Regions from separate parts of the Homo sapiens genome. Here region 1 is linked to region 2. Evidence: fine-mapped expression QTL. Tissue or cell type: whole blood. Region 2 holds a variant in brackets; the other region holds the start of a gene. All regions are shown on one strand. Distances are from middle to middle.

Region 1 (8,152 bases), 48 kb before region 2:
CAGATAATGAGAAATGCCATATTACGGATGTATATATAACAGCTTTATATGGCAATAGGGCAAATAACCTCTCATTCATTCTAACATCTATGCAGTGCCTACTATGTGCCAGGCACTGTTCCAGACACTGAAGATGGGTACTGACTTCGATTGAGTTGAGAGAGACAGACATATAAGAAACAAGCACACGGGGTATTAGGATTGTTGTGTGTTAGTACCATGGACCTGTGCCACTGAGGCACAAAGGAAGTGATTCCCTGGTGAGATTGCAGCAAAGTAAAGAACATTAGTGCACTCCAACACCACCAGTAGTACCTCCTCACCTTCTCACTACAGCCTGAGGCTCTGTGTTTATCCTCCTCAAAGCCAAAGTCGGAGAAGCCTATGTAAATTAGGTTTGAGATTTTCCCAAAAACCTAAATTGCTAGGAGAGCCGAGGATGGTGAACCCGAAGTTATGGCCTGCTATTTTTCCTGCTATTTAGAGGCCTTGCATAAAATGCACGTCCAAAACAACCCTGCATAATTTCAGAGGCCAAATCTTGCAGAGATTATTGATGGACAATTAGAAGCCAGAAATTCTATTTCAAGTTTATTTTTATTTTTTAAACTTATATTTGTCATGTGTCTGAACTCTGCTAAGCATTTTTTACTATATCATCACATTTAATCCTCACAACACCAGGCTATAAGGTAAGAGTAAACATTTACAAATGAGGAAAAAACCGAATCTTTTTTTTTTTTTTTTTTTGAGACAGGGTCTCATTTTGTCACCCAGGCTGGAGTGCAGTGGCAAGATCTTGGCTCACTGCAGCCTCAACCTCCCATGTTCAAGTGATCCTCCTCTCTCAGCCTCCAGAGTAGCTGGGACTACAGGTGCTTACCACCATGCCCAGCTAATTTTATTTATTTTTTGTAGAGAAGGGGTCCCACTATGTTGCCCAGGCTGGTCTGGAACTCTTAGGCTCAAGCAATCCTCCCTCCTCAGCCTCCCAAAGTGCTAAGGTTACAGGTGTGAGCCATGGTGCCCAGCCAACATGGAATCTTAAAGAAACCTTCCCAAGTGATAGAGCTGGGATTAATACTCTCAAATCAGGTCTGCCTGCAAAATTCAGCATTTGAAATAAGTCACTAGAGTCAAGAGCCCCCATTCCACACAAATAACATGGACAGTTTAAGTAACTGACCATTTGTAAATACAGTATATATACTTGAGAAAAACTAGCATGTGACTGAAGTAAAAAATAACTAATAATGTACTTAAATATTTTTGTTTGTTTGTTTTGAAACAGGGTCTTGCTCTGTTGCCCCAGCTGGAGTGCAATGGAGCAAACTCGGCTCATAGCAGCCTCAGCCTCCTGGAGTGAAGTGATCCTCCCGCCTCAGCCTCGCAGTAGCTGGGACCACAGGCTGTGCCACCAAGCCCAGCTAATTTTTTTATTTTTTGTAGCAACAGCATCCCGCTATGTTGCCCAGGCTGGTCTCAAACTCCTGGCATCAAGCAACCCTTCTGCCTAGGCTTCCCAAAATGCTGAGATTACAGGTGTAAGCCATTCCTCCAGCCTTAAATATTTGTAAATCCACAGACTATCCCTGGAAAAATAGATAAGAAATTTTTAAAAGTGATTATCTCTGCAAAGTTATGACACTAGCGGCTATTGGGTGGTATACTCTGGCAACTTAAAGTTTTTATCATCAAAATATAACAACTTAAATATATAAAAATAATGCAATCTTTTCACAATTTTGGCTTTTACAATTTTTTTTGGCTTTTACAATTCTTAATGCCTGATTTCCATTACTGCTATCTTGTTTCTCTTACAAGTAATCAACAAATAAGGTAGGAAATAAATAATTTTTGTTTTTGTTGTTTTTGAGACTGTCGCCCAGGCTAGAGTGCAGTGGAGCGATCTTGGTTCACTGCAACCTCCACCTCCCAGGCTGAAGCGATCCTCCCACGTCAGCCTCTGGAGCAGCCGGGACCACAAGCGCGGGACACAACGCCCAACTAATTTTTTATTTTTTTGTAGGGATGGGGTTTCGCCATGTTGGCCAGACTGGTCTCAGACACCTGGGCTCAAACAACCCACCGGTCTCAGCCTCCTAAAGTGCGGAGATTACAGGCGTGTAGCCACCGCGGCCGGCCCACAATTTTTAAAAGGGATTATAAACAAAACACTGAAATGCATGCATTTTGTTGTGTTATGCTGCTTTTCTCTAAAATGGAATTAAAAAAAAAACGGTTTTACTTGCATGATCAACTTCAAGGTAGTTTAGTCATTCAAGTACTTTTGGTAAGTCCTTGAGACCAAGTACTTCAAGACCTTACCCCAGTCTTTCAAATGAGACATAGCAGAAGGGCAGAGGGGCTAAGCCACTGGTCTCAGCAGTCAGGCCTGGATTCCCAGGGGTCCCTGCCGCATGAACCAGGTGACCTGATTGATCCAACCCACCTCCACAAATGATTAAGGAGCGACACCCAAGTGCCAGGCCTTCCCAGCACTACGCCCGACAAACAAAACACTTCAGGGCTCTGACTTTATGAGGCTATTCTTGTGAACCTGTGGCAAATTCTCTAATCACTATAAAACCCAGTTTCCTTGTCTGTTAAATGAGATAATAATGACTTCCACTCACTGTGCCCTTACTATATGCCAGGAATTGTTCTAAATGCTTTATAACTCACAACCTTAAATGATAGGTCTACATTTGTCCGTCGCAACTTGTAATGAAGACTAATTACTCGTAATCTGCTTTGCATAATGCCAGGCACACAGAAAGAACTCAAAGTTGGCTACCGTTGTGGTTAAAACTAATAGACGTTCTGTGAATAACAAAGGTTATTCATGCAAAAACGCTGAATTCGGCTAAAATTAAGGTTCAGATAAGGCGACAAGCGTGGGCAGTCGAAGGAATTTTGCCATAATTTTGTGACCCATGTGAATGTTCCTGTGGGCCCGCTGCCTCCGCACACCCGCACCCGACGCCCACTAGAACGCACACCCAGAGGGGCACGAGGAAGGCGCCGGTCCGCTCGCTCAAACGTCAGGCCAGACGCGAGGCGCAGCCGCTCCCACCCCGGGACCCCGCTTCCCGCCGCGCCAGGGAAGGTCGTGCTCGCTCACCGCAGCAGCTCCAGGCAGTAGTGGTCAGTGCCCCAGGCGCCCGGTCCGCTGGCCGCAGCCACGCTCCGCCCAGACACCTCCGGCCCGGGCAGCCGCCGCATGCGCGCGTACAGACCCAGAGGCGGCCGGCGGCAGCACAGGCCGGGGATGCCAAGCCGCAACGGCCCCCAGACAGAGCCGTGCGCGGAGGCCGCCATGACGCCGGCACTGCGTGCCCTTCGACCCCCCGCCGTCGGCGCGCAGCTACGCCCCGGCCACGCCCCTGCAGGTTCCCCTATGCTCCTTTGAGTCGCGGGAAGGCAGCCTCTGGACGCCGCTCAAAGAAGAGCCAGGTGTCGCTGTGGTCCTCTGCATCTGGGCCGCCGCCGCGACTCTTTGGCCTTCGTTCCAGGAAAGACCCGCCCAAGTCCGTCCGACCCCTCCTGGGCTCTTCCCCTTCCCCCACGTGCATCCACAGGCGACCTCAGAGCACCTACAAGAAGTGATGGGTGCTGCTGGTGAAGGAAGTAGCTGCCAAAATCACGCCCCGCCGCCCCTATACCCCAAATCCACCATGAGAACAGAACACCTTGCACTGTTTCTCAACAGGGGCTGCCTTGGCACTTTGGGCGCAATAGCGCTGTCCCGCACGTTGCTGGAAGTTTGCAATAGGTGAATGCCCAGTCTTGGTGACCACCAAACGCCCACACACCACCAAAGGCCTCTGGAAATGTCGCCCTGTTTGGGAACCACTGGCCACCTAACACCTCCAGCAGAAAAGCACACACATCTCTCAGAGAAGCCACACAGTAGGCCATTATCAACCACTACCTATAGCTAACCTGCTTGCTGACTTTTTTCTCCCAGTATCCTCTGGGTTCCATACGGGCAGTGCCATTATTTTGTTTCCTGCTTTACCCCAATGGCTGTCACTTGAAAATTGTAGAAGCTGAAGTGCCTCAGTTCACATAAATAGTAAGTAGTCGGGTAAGATCCAAACATTCAAAATATCTGTGTTATTCCACAATCTTATTTGGACAGGGAAAGGAAGTGAAGACGGCCATAGGCCAGAGCCTGCTTGTCTGGGCCTCCAAGGTCCAGCATGGAACTCCAAGGAGTCAAAATTTTCAATGTAAACCTGACCTTTCAGGTCCTTAGGAAGATGTATTTATCAAGGCAGGAAGACAGAGCTTTTAACAGTTTACTAACTTGATTTATAACTTTTTTTTTTTTTTTTGAGACAGAGTCTCACTCTGTTGCCAGGCTGGAGTGCTGTGGCTTGATCTTGGCTCACTGCAACCTCCGCCTCCCGGGTTCAAGCGATTCTCCCGCCTCAGCCTCCCGAGTAGCTGGGACTACAGGTGCACGCCACCACGTCCAGCTAATTTTTGTCTTTTTAGTAGAGATGAGGTTTCACCATGTTGGCCAGGATGGTCTCGATCTGACCTCATGATCCGCCCACCTCAGTCTCCCATAGTGCTGGGATTAACTTTGAATATTTGTTCACATGGTATGTTGGCTTCCTTTGGTACTCTTACTTTCAGGGCCCTCAAATATTAGAGGTGGGTCTAGCTGCTACCAACTAGCTGATCCCAGCCAGCAGCTGCCTACACTTGAATCCCTCTTGCCTCCAGATTTGCCTAGACTTTTCTTGCTATGGCCAGACTGGTTCTTTCTAAAATGTCCATCTGATCATGGCGTTTCCCTACTTGACAGCATTTACTGTGTGTTATATGCAGTCCGTCCATGATGTGGCCTCAATTTACCTTTCTGCCTCAACTCTGGCCACTTGCCTTTGTGACTCCAAGTTAATGTTTTTGTTTAAACCCAAGGTAAAGCACCTTGTCCTCTGGCCCTAAGAACTCTAACCAATTCATGCAACTTTGGTTTTTACTCTCTGAAATTACCTTTCTTCATCCTGTGTAGTAGCAGAACCCCGGTGGTGGGTGTTACCCTTTCATCACCAGTGACTGGTCCAGGACAGTGCATATTTCCCTGATCTGGCCAATTAGACTTGAGAACAAGTCCACTGTGGTGCTTCTGGGAAAGTTGCTTCACTAATAAAAGGAAACATAAAATTCAATATACTACATATGAAATATTCTTGGCAAAAAGGCTTAACATAAAGTTAATTAAGCTTCTAAATCTAATTTTAAAGTTTATAAGAAAAAGACAAGAAACAAGATAAATCGACACCACAGGGAAACAAATCAGAAAAATTCGAAAGAAAAACCCAATGTCACTCCTGCGATTAGGTTATAAAAGGTCTGCACCTTCCATATTTCATCTTGGGTGCTCTCTCTCTCTCTCTCATCACTTACTCTGTGGGAAGCTAGCTGCCATGACACGTGAGGGGGATTAGTCCTTTGTCTGTAATATAGATCATTATTATTTTCCTCAGTTAGGTTTTAGTTTTGTCTTTGCTTGTGGAATCTTTGCCATGCAGAAATTTTGCAATATATTTTTATCTAGTCAAATTTACAATATTTACTTTTATGGCTTCTGGATTTTGCAGTCTTTAAAAAGGCCTTCCCCATTTTAAATGTGTTAAAAGAATCCCTTGCTTTCTTCTAGTCCTTCTGGTTTCTCTCGTACTACTTGTAGATTTCACTTTTTTACATTTCTTTTTTTTTTTTTTGGAGGGGTAAAGATTAGGAAGGTATGAATCTAACTTTTTTCTTTATATCTAGTAGTTGTCTTACTATCATTTATTCAGTAGTCCACCTTTTCCTCCTTTGATTTGAGATGCTTCCTTTTTCACAGAATAAACTCATGCATATACTTTGTGTCTATAGTGTTCCATTTGTCTATTAATGTTCTAGTAGTAAACTCTTTTAACTATTGCGTCTTTAAAATATGTTTTCATAGATATCTAGTAGGGCTAGTCCTTCTTCATTACTCTTTTTCTCTTCCCCGGTCTTCCTGGCCATTCTTGTTTATTTTCCCATTTGGCTTTTAGGATCAGCCATTCGATTAAAATAATTCTGAAGGTATTTTCATTACAGCTATGTTAAATTTATACCTAATGTATGGAAAACTGGTATTTTTATTATATTGAACCTTCATAAACATTTTTAATTACAGCATTATAGTTCATCTTATCAACAGATATAACACATTAACTATGCCCTTATTCAATCCTTATATTTTCCACAATTAAATACTTTTTAGATGAACCACTACTAAAAAGGAAAAACAATTTTTCTATACTTATGCAACCCTTCTGACACTACATGTATAGATCTTCCACACCAAGCATTTTCAGGACTACACAGTTAGGACAGAATCCACAGGTTCAGAGTTCAGTCTCACAAGGCTGCCCCCTACTTTGGACACCAGTAGCAATTAGTGAGTCCTTAGGTTACCCATGCTTTTGTTTGACTTGGCTACAAATCAAGGATTTTCAGGACCTTCCTCCTCAGGTTTGATAATTTGCTATGATGGCTCCCAGATATCAGGGAAACACTTATATATATTTACTGGTTTATTATAAAGGATATAGATAAAGGTCAAAGAACAAATATAACACATTTATAACAAAAGATGCTGTCCCTTAATGGTCCAGAGAACATGTTTCTGACTTCCTGCCAAAAGGACACATACTGAGTTTTTTTCTTAGAATGACAGTGACTTGTGAGGAGCTGTTCTATGCACATACTGCCTCCTGATTCGTCTAGCAACCAGTAGCACGTGCCAAGAAGGGAAAAGGCTCACAGAGTTGGAAATATAGTCTGTTGCCTTGGGATAGTGTTTCTGGACAAAACATTCTTCTAGGGAAATAAGAAATTTCATCCTAGCTGATCCACAATTCTATTGCATAACTGAAGGTCACACCTGGTGCTAAGTTAAATGTTTGTCACTAAAGAGATTTCCATTTGGCAAACAAAATATTGTGGGATTATGCTGTTCCCTCTTTCTGGATTGTCCTTGTGTGCTGTATCTTCAAGGAGGCCATTTGGTGATAATCCCAAATCCCCAGCCTTTAACCAGCCACCTACGGCCTCTACAGACTCCCAAGAGAGCTACACAGAGGACAGTCCTGGCAAATGGGCAATGTTTATTACACTGTTTTTACAAACCCCACTGCTAAGCTTGTCTGGATCACTTCAAAGGCAAAAAGACATGTAGAAAGACAAACCCAACAAAAATGGTGTGATTCAAGACCTAAATCAAAGTAAGCCGCAACCCAAGGCTTTCCTGAGATTTGGGGTTATAGGAGGAGAGCTCTAAGTTTGTCCTTGTCACCACAAAAGTTCTAATGCCCTTTTTCCCTTTCATGAACCTCTACTCATCCCCCAAACACCTAATTAAACACCTCTTCCTTCCTGAATTTTCCTTGACCATAACCCCATCCAAGAAAAAAAGAGTTGTTCCCCCAGTTTTGATCCTATAACAATTTGTGTTCATGTTTGATCACTTTGCCAGGTCTTACTGTGGTGATCTGCTTATATGGCCCTCTTCCCAGACTGCCAAAGGTAGATGTTTTCTTACTCCTCTTTTTATCTCCAGTGCCTGGCCAAGTGCCTGGCATTGGGAGGTGTTAGTGTATCGTTCTGAAGGCCAAGTTTTTTGGCACCGGAAATAAGACACCAGGTTATGCAGTGTGTGCACTGCACAAACATGCCTGGCTAAGGGAGCAAGAGGGGCTGGTGTGGGCTGGTGTGGCATTGTCTCTGCTCAGAGGAAGGGTAGCCTTTCTCTTCACACAGAGAGGCATGTGCCTGCAGGGCTGCCTCAGCCCAGATGGGGACCTTCTCATTTATAACAAGGCACCATACAGGCTTGCAGTCTTAGTGACTGAAAGAGCAAATCAGACTCAGCAAGTTTAAGAAGGGCAGAATATGAAGAAAATACAAAGTTGAAAGGAATATTTCCCCTTGTGAAGGGTTTCCACTATTCGTTTAATAGTCAAGCCTTACAGTTATCTGATTTTAAGGAACCTATTATCAGCAGCTATGAAAAAGAGGAACTTGAATGCATCATGCTTTTTGGGTAGTTTACTTATCCTCAATTACCTTTGTTTTTTTGAGACAAAGTTTCACTCTTGTC
Region 2 (8,200 bases):
ATTCTCCTACTTCAGCCTCCCGAGTAGCTGGGATTACAGGTGCGCGCCACCACACCAAGCTGATTTTTTTTATTTTCAGTAGAGATGAGGTTTTTGCCATGTTGGCCAAGCTGGTCTTGAACTACTGGCCTCAAGTGATCCACCTGCCTCGGCCTCCCAAAGTGCTGGGATTACAGGCGTAAGCCATGGTGCCCAGCCCATTCCGGCCTGTCTTCTATGGATAAAGTTCGTTTTTTGTCATGGTCTTTTTTTACATTGTTGTGATCCTCCTGCACATATGTCTGCCTTTTCCCTTAGCATTATGTCATAAACATTTTCAAGGTTATTACATAGGCTTTATTAATATAAATTCTTTTTATAAAAACACTTGAAAAAATATTACAAAAACAATGTATTTGTGGCAAAATAATTCAAATAACACAGAAATATATAAAGTTAAAAAGTAAAATCCCCAGATTTCAGGAATGTGGACTAAACTCATGCTGAAATCTCCTTCATAAGACCCCAGGAAGAGATTTTTTAAAAGATACAAAAAGAAAGAGAGAAGGAAGGATGGAAAAGAGAGAGGGGTGTGAAAGACAATATAGCCACTTTTGAAAACAAGGAAGGACCCTCTCTTTAAAGGCTGGGCAGCATTCCTCAAGGAAGTGAGGAGATAGGAAAGCACAAGTCAAGAAGCCCCAGGTCCTCACCTCCAGGTGGGACTTGAAGCCCAGGGTGTAGGCAGAGGTGTAGCCCAGGTGGCAGAAGGTAAGCTTGGTCAGCCTCTGAAAATGGCCCACACCATCAAAAAGAAAATCTCAACAAAAGCGGGGATTTGCATCTGAGAAAAAATAATTACCAGAATGATGAGGATCTGAAAAGTAGTGACTTCAGATCCTCAGGACGGCTCTCAGTTTTAGCCGCATGCTAAAATCACCTGGGAGCTTAAACAGGAAACAAACACTGTTTTGCTCTACTACACTCAACCCTTCTGACACAAAATGTCTCAGGGCTTATTCTACCCCAAACACCCCAAACAATCCTCCAACTCTTTGGACACCAACTAGGTGTACCACAATTTAATTATGACACTAACTACCTGGAGTTACTGTAGATGCCACAGGTTAAGGGCTCAGTCCCACAAAACTGCCCCCAAACTTCAGATGCCAACTGCAGGTAGTGAGTCCCTAGGTTACCCACACTTCTTTCTAACTTGGCTACAAATTGGAGGTTCCCATTTGCTATGATGGCTCACAGAACTCAGGGAAACACTTATGTTTACCTATGTTTGCCAGCTTTTTTTTTTTCTTTTTTTGAGACAGGGTCTTGCTTTGTCTCCCAGGTTACAGCAAAGTGGAATGGCTATGGTTCACTGCAGCCTCGACCTCCCAGGCTCAAGCGATCCTCCCACCTCAGCCTCCCAAGTACCTGGACTATAGGCGTGCACCTCCAAGCCTGGCTAAGTTTTTATTTTTCATGGAGATGGGGTCTCACTGTGTTGCCAGAGCTAGTCTCAAACTCCTGGGCTCAAGTGATCCTCCCACCTTGGCCTCCCAAAATGTTGGGATTACAGGCATGAGCCACCATGCTTGGCCTGTTTACCAGCTTATTATAAAGGATATGATAGAGAATACAGATGAACAGCCAGATGAAGAGGTACATAGAGTGAGTCCAAAAGTGTCCTGAGGGCAAGAATTGGAGTGCGCCATCCTTCTAACACGCAGATGTGTTCACCAACCTAGAAGCTCTATGAGCCTTGTAGTCTTATGGAGGCTTCATCACATCGGCATGATGGGTTATTAACTCAATCTCCAGCTCTGCTCCCCTTCCTGGAGAATAGGGGATGGGACTGAATGTTCCAAGCTTCTAATCATGGCTTGGTCTTTCTGCTGACCAGTTCCCATCCCAAAGCTATCCAGGAGCCCCCCAAGAGTTGCCGAATTATTAATAGAACAAAGGACTCTTCTAGTACCCGGGAAATTCCAAAGGATTTAGGAGCTCTTTGTCAGGAACCAGAGTCCAAGACCAAGTATTAGAACAAACGATGTACCTAGCACCCCTGTCATTCAGGAAATTACAAGGGTTTTAGGAGCTCTGTGCCAGGGACTGGGGAGGAAAACCACTGATATGTTTTATTATATCATAATGTCACAGAGCTTTTCAGGGTTCATTGCCCACTACTCCCCAGAACAGATATTCCCTAGACTTAACTGTTCATCAGTTAAGTCAGAATTTCAAGTTCAAAAGCTTCAAAAGCAGGAAGCCAACAGTGCAGCCCTCAGTCTGAAGCCAAAGGCCTGAGACCCCCACAGAAGGCCACTAATGTAAGTTCCAGAGTCCAAGAGCTGAAGAATCTGGAGTCTGATGTCCAAGGACAGGAGAAGCGGAAGCAAAACATCTGGCACAAGGAGAGAGAGAGAGAGAGAGAGAACCCAGCAGGGTGCTTATGCCCCTTCTTATGCCTGCTTCGTTCTAGCCAGGTCAATTTTTTTTTTTTTTTTTTTTTAGAGACAGGGTCTTGCTCTTTGCTCAGGCTGGAGTGCAGAGGTGTGATCATGGCTCACAGCAGCCTCAATGTCCCAGGCTCAAGTGATCCTCCCACCTCAGGTCACCTGAGTACTATGAGTACTAGGGCTACAGTTGTGTGCCACCACACCCAGCTAATTAAAAAAAATTTTTTGTAAGGATAGGCTCTCTTTTTGTTGTCCAGGCTGGTCTTGTACTTCTGGCCTCAAGTGATCCTTCCACCTTGGCCTCCCAAAGCACTGGGATTACAGGCATGAGCCACTGCACCCGGCCCATATCAATATTTTTATGTACTTTTTATTGTAGTAGAAAAGCATAACATAAAATTTACCATCTTAACCTTTTTTTTTTTTTTTTTTTTTCTGAGTCAGGGTCTCACTCTGTCACCCAGGCTAGAGTGCAGTGGTGCAATCATGGCTCACTGCAGCCTTGACCTCCCTGAGTTTAGGTGATCCTCTCACCTAGGTGGGACCACAGGTGTGTGCCACCACGCTTGGCTAATTTTTGTATTTTTTGTAGAGATGGAGTTTCGCCATGTTTCCTAGGCTGATCTCAAACTCTTGGACTCAAGCGATCCGCCTGACTGGGCTTCCCAAAGTGCTGAGATTACAGGCCTGAGCCACTGTACCTGGCCTCTGAACCATTTTTAATTGTATGGTTCAGTAATATTAAGTACATTCGCATTGTTGTGAAACAGATCTCCAGAACTTCTTCACCTTGCAAATCTGAAACTCTATACCCATTAAACAACATAAACAACAACTTCCCTTTTCCTTCTCCCCAACCTCTGATGACCATCATTCTCCAAACATCAGTATTTTTTTTTTTTTAGATGAAGTCTTGCTCTGTTGCCCAAGTTGGAGTGCAGTGGTGTGATCTTGGCTCACTGCAACCTCCACCTCCCAGGTTCAAGCAGTTCTCCTGTCTCAGCCTCCCAAGTAGCTGGGACCACAGGCACCTACCACCGCACCCAGCTAATTTTTTTTTTTTTTTTTTTTTTTGAGATGGAGTGTTGCTCTGTCACCAGGCTGGAGTGCAGTGGCGGGATCTTGGCTCACTGCAACCTCCACCTCCTGGTTCAAGTGATTCTCGTAACTCAGCCACCCAAGTAGCTGGGATTACAGGGATGCGCCACCACACCCAGCTAATTTTTGTATTTTTAGTAGAGACGGGGTTTCACCACGTTGGCTAGGATGGTCTCAACCTCCTGACCTCGTGATCCGCCTGCCTCTGCCTCCCAAAGTGCCGGGATTACAGGCGTGAGCCACCACCACCCGGCCCAAACATCAGTATTTTTTTTTTTTTTTTGAGACACAGTCTCTGTCACCCAGGCTGGAGTGCAGTGGCAC[G/A]ATCTCGGCTCACTGCAAGCTCCACCTCCCGGGTTCATGCCTTTCTCCTGCCTCAGCCTCTCTGAGTAGCTGGGACTACAGGCGCCCGCCACCACGCCCGGCTAATTTTTTGTATTTTTAGTGGAGACAGGGTTTCACCGTGGTCTCGATCTCCTGACCTCGTGATCCACCTGCCTCTGCCTCCCAAAGTGCTGGGATTACAGGCGTGAGCCACTGCACCTGGTCCAAACATCAGTATTTTTAAGCTTCTCAGATATTCCAATGTGCAGCCAAAGTTGATTTCTTGTGCTCAGAAAACTAAAGCAGGGAATTATATCCACAAAATGAGAATGGGTGGCTGTAAAATAACAGCACATTATAATTAGAAAGAATTAGCAAAAGATGCTGAAAATAAAATACATGTAATTTTTGGAAGAAAAAAAATCAATAATGCTGTGAATATCAGGCTAGACACGACCATGAAGGCAGTCCCTTCGGATGCCTCACTTCCTAGCACTCATTCAGCCTCTTTCCTCCCACCTGTCCTCTCACCCTTTCTCTAACCCAATCCTAGACCCTGTGAATGTAGTTAAAAGAGCATCATAACAACAGTCTTCCAACCAAGAGCAACAAAGGAAGCTTCCAGGAGGCCAGCAGCTGCAGGTCACAGGGTTTCTGCGAATGTGCTCTTTCTAACTGCTATAGCTCCCCGCTGCCTGAGGCTCTGCTGGATTCCGACTCCCAGCATGGGAGACTCACCTGCAACTTTCGTTGAGAGTACATGGGGAGGGGCCTTGGCAGGAGCAGTTCAGTAGACATCTCACCATACCATTATCTCTTTTCTCCCCAACCTCCACCTTAGATTTATAGGAATATAAAATCTGATTAAAATAGCAATTAGGACAGCTTTAAAGGGAAAAATCAGCTCAAGGAAGCCACCTGCTGAATGTGAATGAAAGGGGATCCTCCAACCCACCCACACCTGCCCTCTGTCTCTACCTGGCCCTAACAGTTACAGGGGGTGGAGGAAGACTTGCTCTATCCCAGGGGCAACTCAGCATTGGAATGAGACAGTGGGAACTGGCAAACACATGACTTGGTTCAGGCTCCTCCAAGTGGTTATGTTGGTGGGCTGAGAAAGGAAGAAGCAAGGAGCTGGTGTTTTGGAACCTCGCAGATCTTGGTTTGACTTCCTGGGCTGCTACTTGCTTACTTGTTTTGGGCCAGAAGGCCCTGGGTTTGAATCTCAGGTTGACCCTTGGACAAACATCTACAGGTGTGGAAGTGAGCACCACGCCTCTAGCTGGACAGGCTTCTGAAGCTGGCAGGCTATGTACTTCCTGCATACGGGGAAAGGGACGTCCTTTGAGACCCCCTTAACAAGGAAAGGCTTGGCTACTGATACACTGGGAGCGGATGGACTACAGGCTCCAGGTACCTCTGCCCACAAGTTCCTTAGCATCTCTCCTATGGCATTCTACCTCCTGACAGCTTCCATGCCAGGTATGATGCTGCTTCCTTCTTCATCAACACAGCCTCACCGCTCAGCATATTGCTGCTTAAGCTGCCCCAATTCCATGGGGTTCCTATCTGCAGCATCAACAAATCCTGAGGGCTTGAGCTGGGGAAGGCATTGAAACAAACGGCTATAATATCCTTCCCTTCTTCTCCATACTGTCTGCAATATCTTGAAAGCTGGAGAACAATATACCCCTTCTTAAATGCCCAGGAAGAGAAGAGATTGGAAAATGGAGCTCCTGGGCCCAGTCTTGCTGGGGGCAAGTTTCTTTGAATCAGGAAAGTAGGTGAGGTAAAGGCCAACTCACTGTCCTCCCTCGCAGGAAGCCATGTCTGGTCATTATATTTTTCCGTGTCTTCCACCCCTACCACCTACCAGGTCTGTTTTACTGTGGTTTTTTTTTTTCCTTATAATAAAGATAATTTAAAAAAAAAACAGATTTGGCTCTAAGTAGACACCTGCTGCAAAGGGATGAGGAGATGGTATGGCCACAAGAGCTGGTCAGTGCCCTGAATGACCTTCCAGTTCCTGACTAATGGCCACAGTGCAGGGTGGTATGATGTTCCTGCTCTAACCTTGAGGACTGGCTGAGTGGCTTTCTGGAGTTCCCATAAAGACATTATTTGTTTTCCTCACTTTCATGAACACCCTTATCTTAGTTGGTTCAGGCTGCTATAATGAAAATACCATAGACTGAGTGGTTTATAAACAGCAGAAACTTATTTCTCACAGTTCTGGAGGGTGGGAAGTCCAAGATCAAAGATTCCATGTCTGGGGAGGGCCTTTTTTTTTTTTTTTTTAGAGACAGGGGTCTTGCTGTGTTGCCCAGGCTGGTCCTGAACTCTGGGCCTCAAGTAATCCTTCCACCTCGGCCTCCCAAAGCACTGGGTTTGCAGGTGTGAGCCACCACGTCTGGCCAAAGGTCACTTTCTTTTTTTTTTTTTTTTGAGACAGAGTCTCACTCTTGTCGCCCAGGCTGGAGTGCAGTGGTGCGATCTTAGCTCACTGCAACCTCCACCTCCCAGGTTCAAGCAATTCTCCTGCCTCAGCCTCCCGAGTAGCTGGGACTAAAGGTGCCCGCCACCACACCTGGCTAATTTTTTGTATGTTTAGTAGAGACAGGGTTTCACTGTGTTAGCTAGGATGGTCTCGATCTCCTGACCTCGTGATCTGCCCGCCTTAGCCTCCCAAAGTGCTGGGATTACAGGCGTGAGCCACCGCACCCAGCCCAAAGGTCACTTTCTGATTCATAGTTGGGCATCTTCTCACTATGTCCTCATGGGGGAGAAGGCATGAGGGAGCTCTCTGGTGTCTCTTTCATTTTATTTTATTTTATTTTTTGAGACAGAATCTCACTCTGTCACCCAGGCTGGAGGTCCTATCATCTCCATTTTACAGATAAGGAAAAAATACTGAGACACAGTGAAATTAAGTAGCTTGCTTAAGGTCACACAGCTAGGGAGTGGCAGAGCCAGGATTTGAACCCAGATAGCTTGCCTTCAGACATTTCAGTCCTAATCACATGGTAATTATTAAGGGTTTCTCTTAAGAAATGAGTATTTATTAATTTAGCTAGTTAGAGACAGAGTCTTGTTCTGTCACCCAGGCTGTAGTGAAGTGAAGCTATCATAGCTTACTGGAGCCTCGAACTCCTGGGCTCAAGCAATCCTCCCAGCTTGGCCTCCCAAAGTGCTGAGATTACAGATGTGAGGCACCATACCTGGCTAAGAATTGAATATTTATTTATTATTTATTTTTGAGACAGTGTCTTGCTCTGTCGTCCAGGCTGCATGCAGTGGCACAATCATGGCTCACTGCAGCCTCGACTGCTGGGCTTAAGCAAGCCTCCCACCTCAGTCTCCCGAGTAGCTGGGACTACAGGCATGCACCACCATGCCTGGATGATCTTTTTTTTTTTTTAAGTTTCAGTAGAGACAGGGTCTTGCTACGTTGCCCAGGCTGGTCCTAAACTCCTGAGCTCACACAATCCTCCCACGTTGTCCTCCCAAAGTGCTGAGATTATAGGAGAACTGAATTTTTAAATTGTACTTAATTTTATGATCAAAAACTCATTTTCCTTTAGGTTGGTCTTTGATCTATTTTAAAGATCACATTGTGGCTGGGTGTGGTGGCTCAGGCCTGTAATCCCAGCACTTTGGGAGGTTGAGGCGGGCAGATCACTTGAGTTCAGGAGTTAGAGACCAGCCTGACCAACATGGCGAAACCCCATATCTACTAAAAATACAAAAATTAGCCTGGTGTGGCGCACGCCTGTAATCCCAGCTACTTGGCAGGCTGAAGCAGGAGAACTGCTTGAACCCGGGAGGCAGAGGTTGCAGTGAGCCAAGATCGAGCCACTGCAATCCAGCCTTTGCAATGGAGCGAGACTCAGTCTCAAGAAAGAAAAAAAAAATCATGTTGTATCTATTCTTTGCTCTCTAAATCTGCCTTGCTACTCCATGGACCAAAACAGTTAAAGAATAACCTGGTTGGACTTTTCAGAAAGTAGCTTTCTAGGAGAGCTTTCTCTCTGACACTATCAGAATCTTTGTTTTTCTGATTTAGCATTTATTAAATAACTACAGTTTGATAGGTAAAGGAAGCAAGATGGAGGTAACACTGCCAGAAAATTTTAAAATGCAGCTAGTTGATTTCCAGCTACCAACTACATCATTCTTCAATTTGCAGATGAGTCAGAATTTTTTTTGAGACGGAGTTTTTTTTTTTTCCGCTCTTGTTGCCCAGGCTGGAGTGCAATGGCACAATCTTGGCTCACTGCAACGTCCGCCTCCAGAGTTCAAGTGATTCTCCTGCCTCAGCCTCCCGAGTAGCTGGGATTATAGGC

The links. PIP is the estimated chance that this variant, and not a neighbour inherited with it, causes the effect.
Region 1: it holds the start of NDUFAF6, and the variant in region 2 is fine-mapped to the expression of NDUFAF6 in whole blood (TOPMed, PIP above 0.99).

What each region holds. Positions count from the first base shown.
Region 1 is chr8:95,020,178-95,028,329 of GRCh38, reverse strand. NDUFAF6 (NADH:ubiquinone oxidoreductase complex assembly factor 6) reads right to left here and starts at 3,341. Exons shown (of 9, transcript NM_152416.4): 1 at 3,125-3,341. The coding sequence starts at 3,321. RefSeq lists a silencer at 3,050-3,419 and enhancers at 3,175-3,469, 3,436-4,282.
Region 2 is chr8:94,971,811-94,980,010 of GRCh38, reverse strand. It overlaps a transcript of NDUFAF6 not described here. Among named protein-coding and RNA genes, the nearest start is that of TP53INP1, 27 kb to the right of the region's middle. RefSeq lists an enhancer at 4,176-4,739. The variant G/A (reference allele first, on the strand shown) is at 3,858.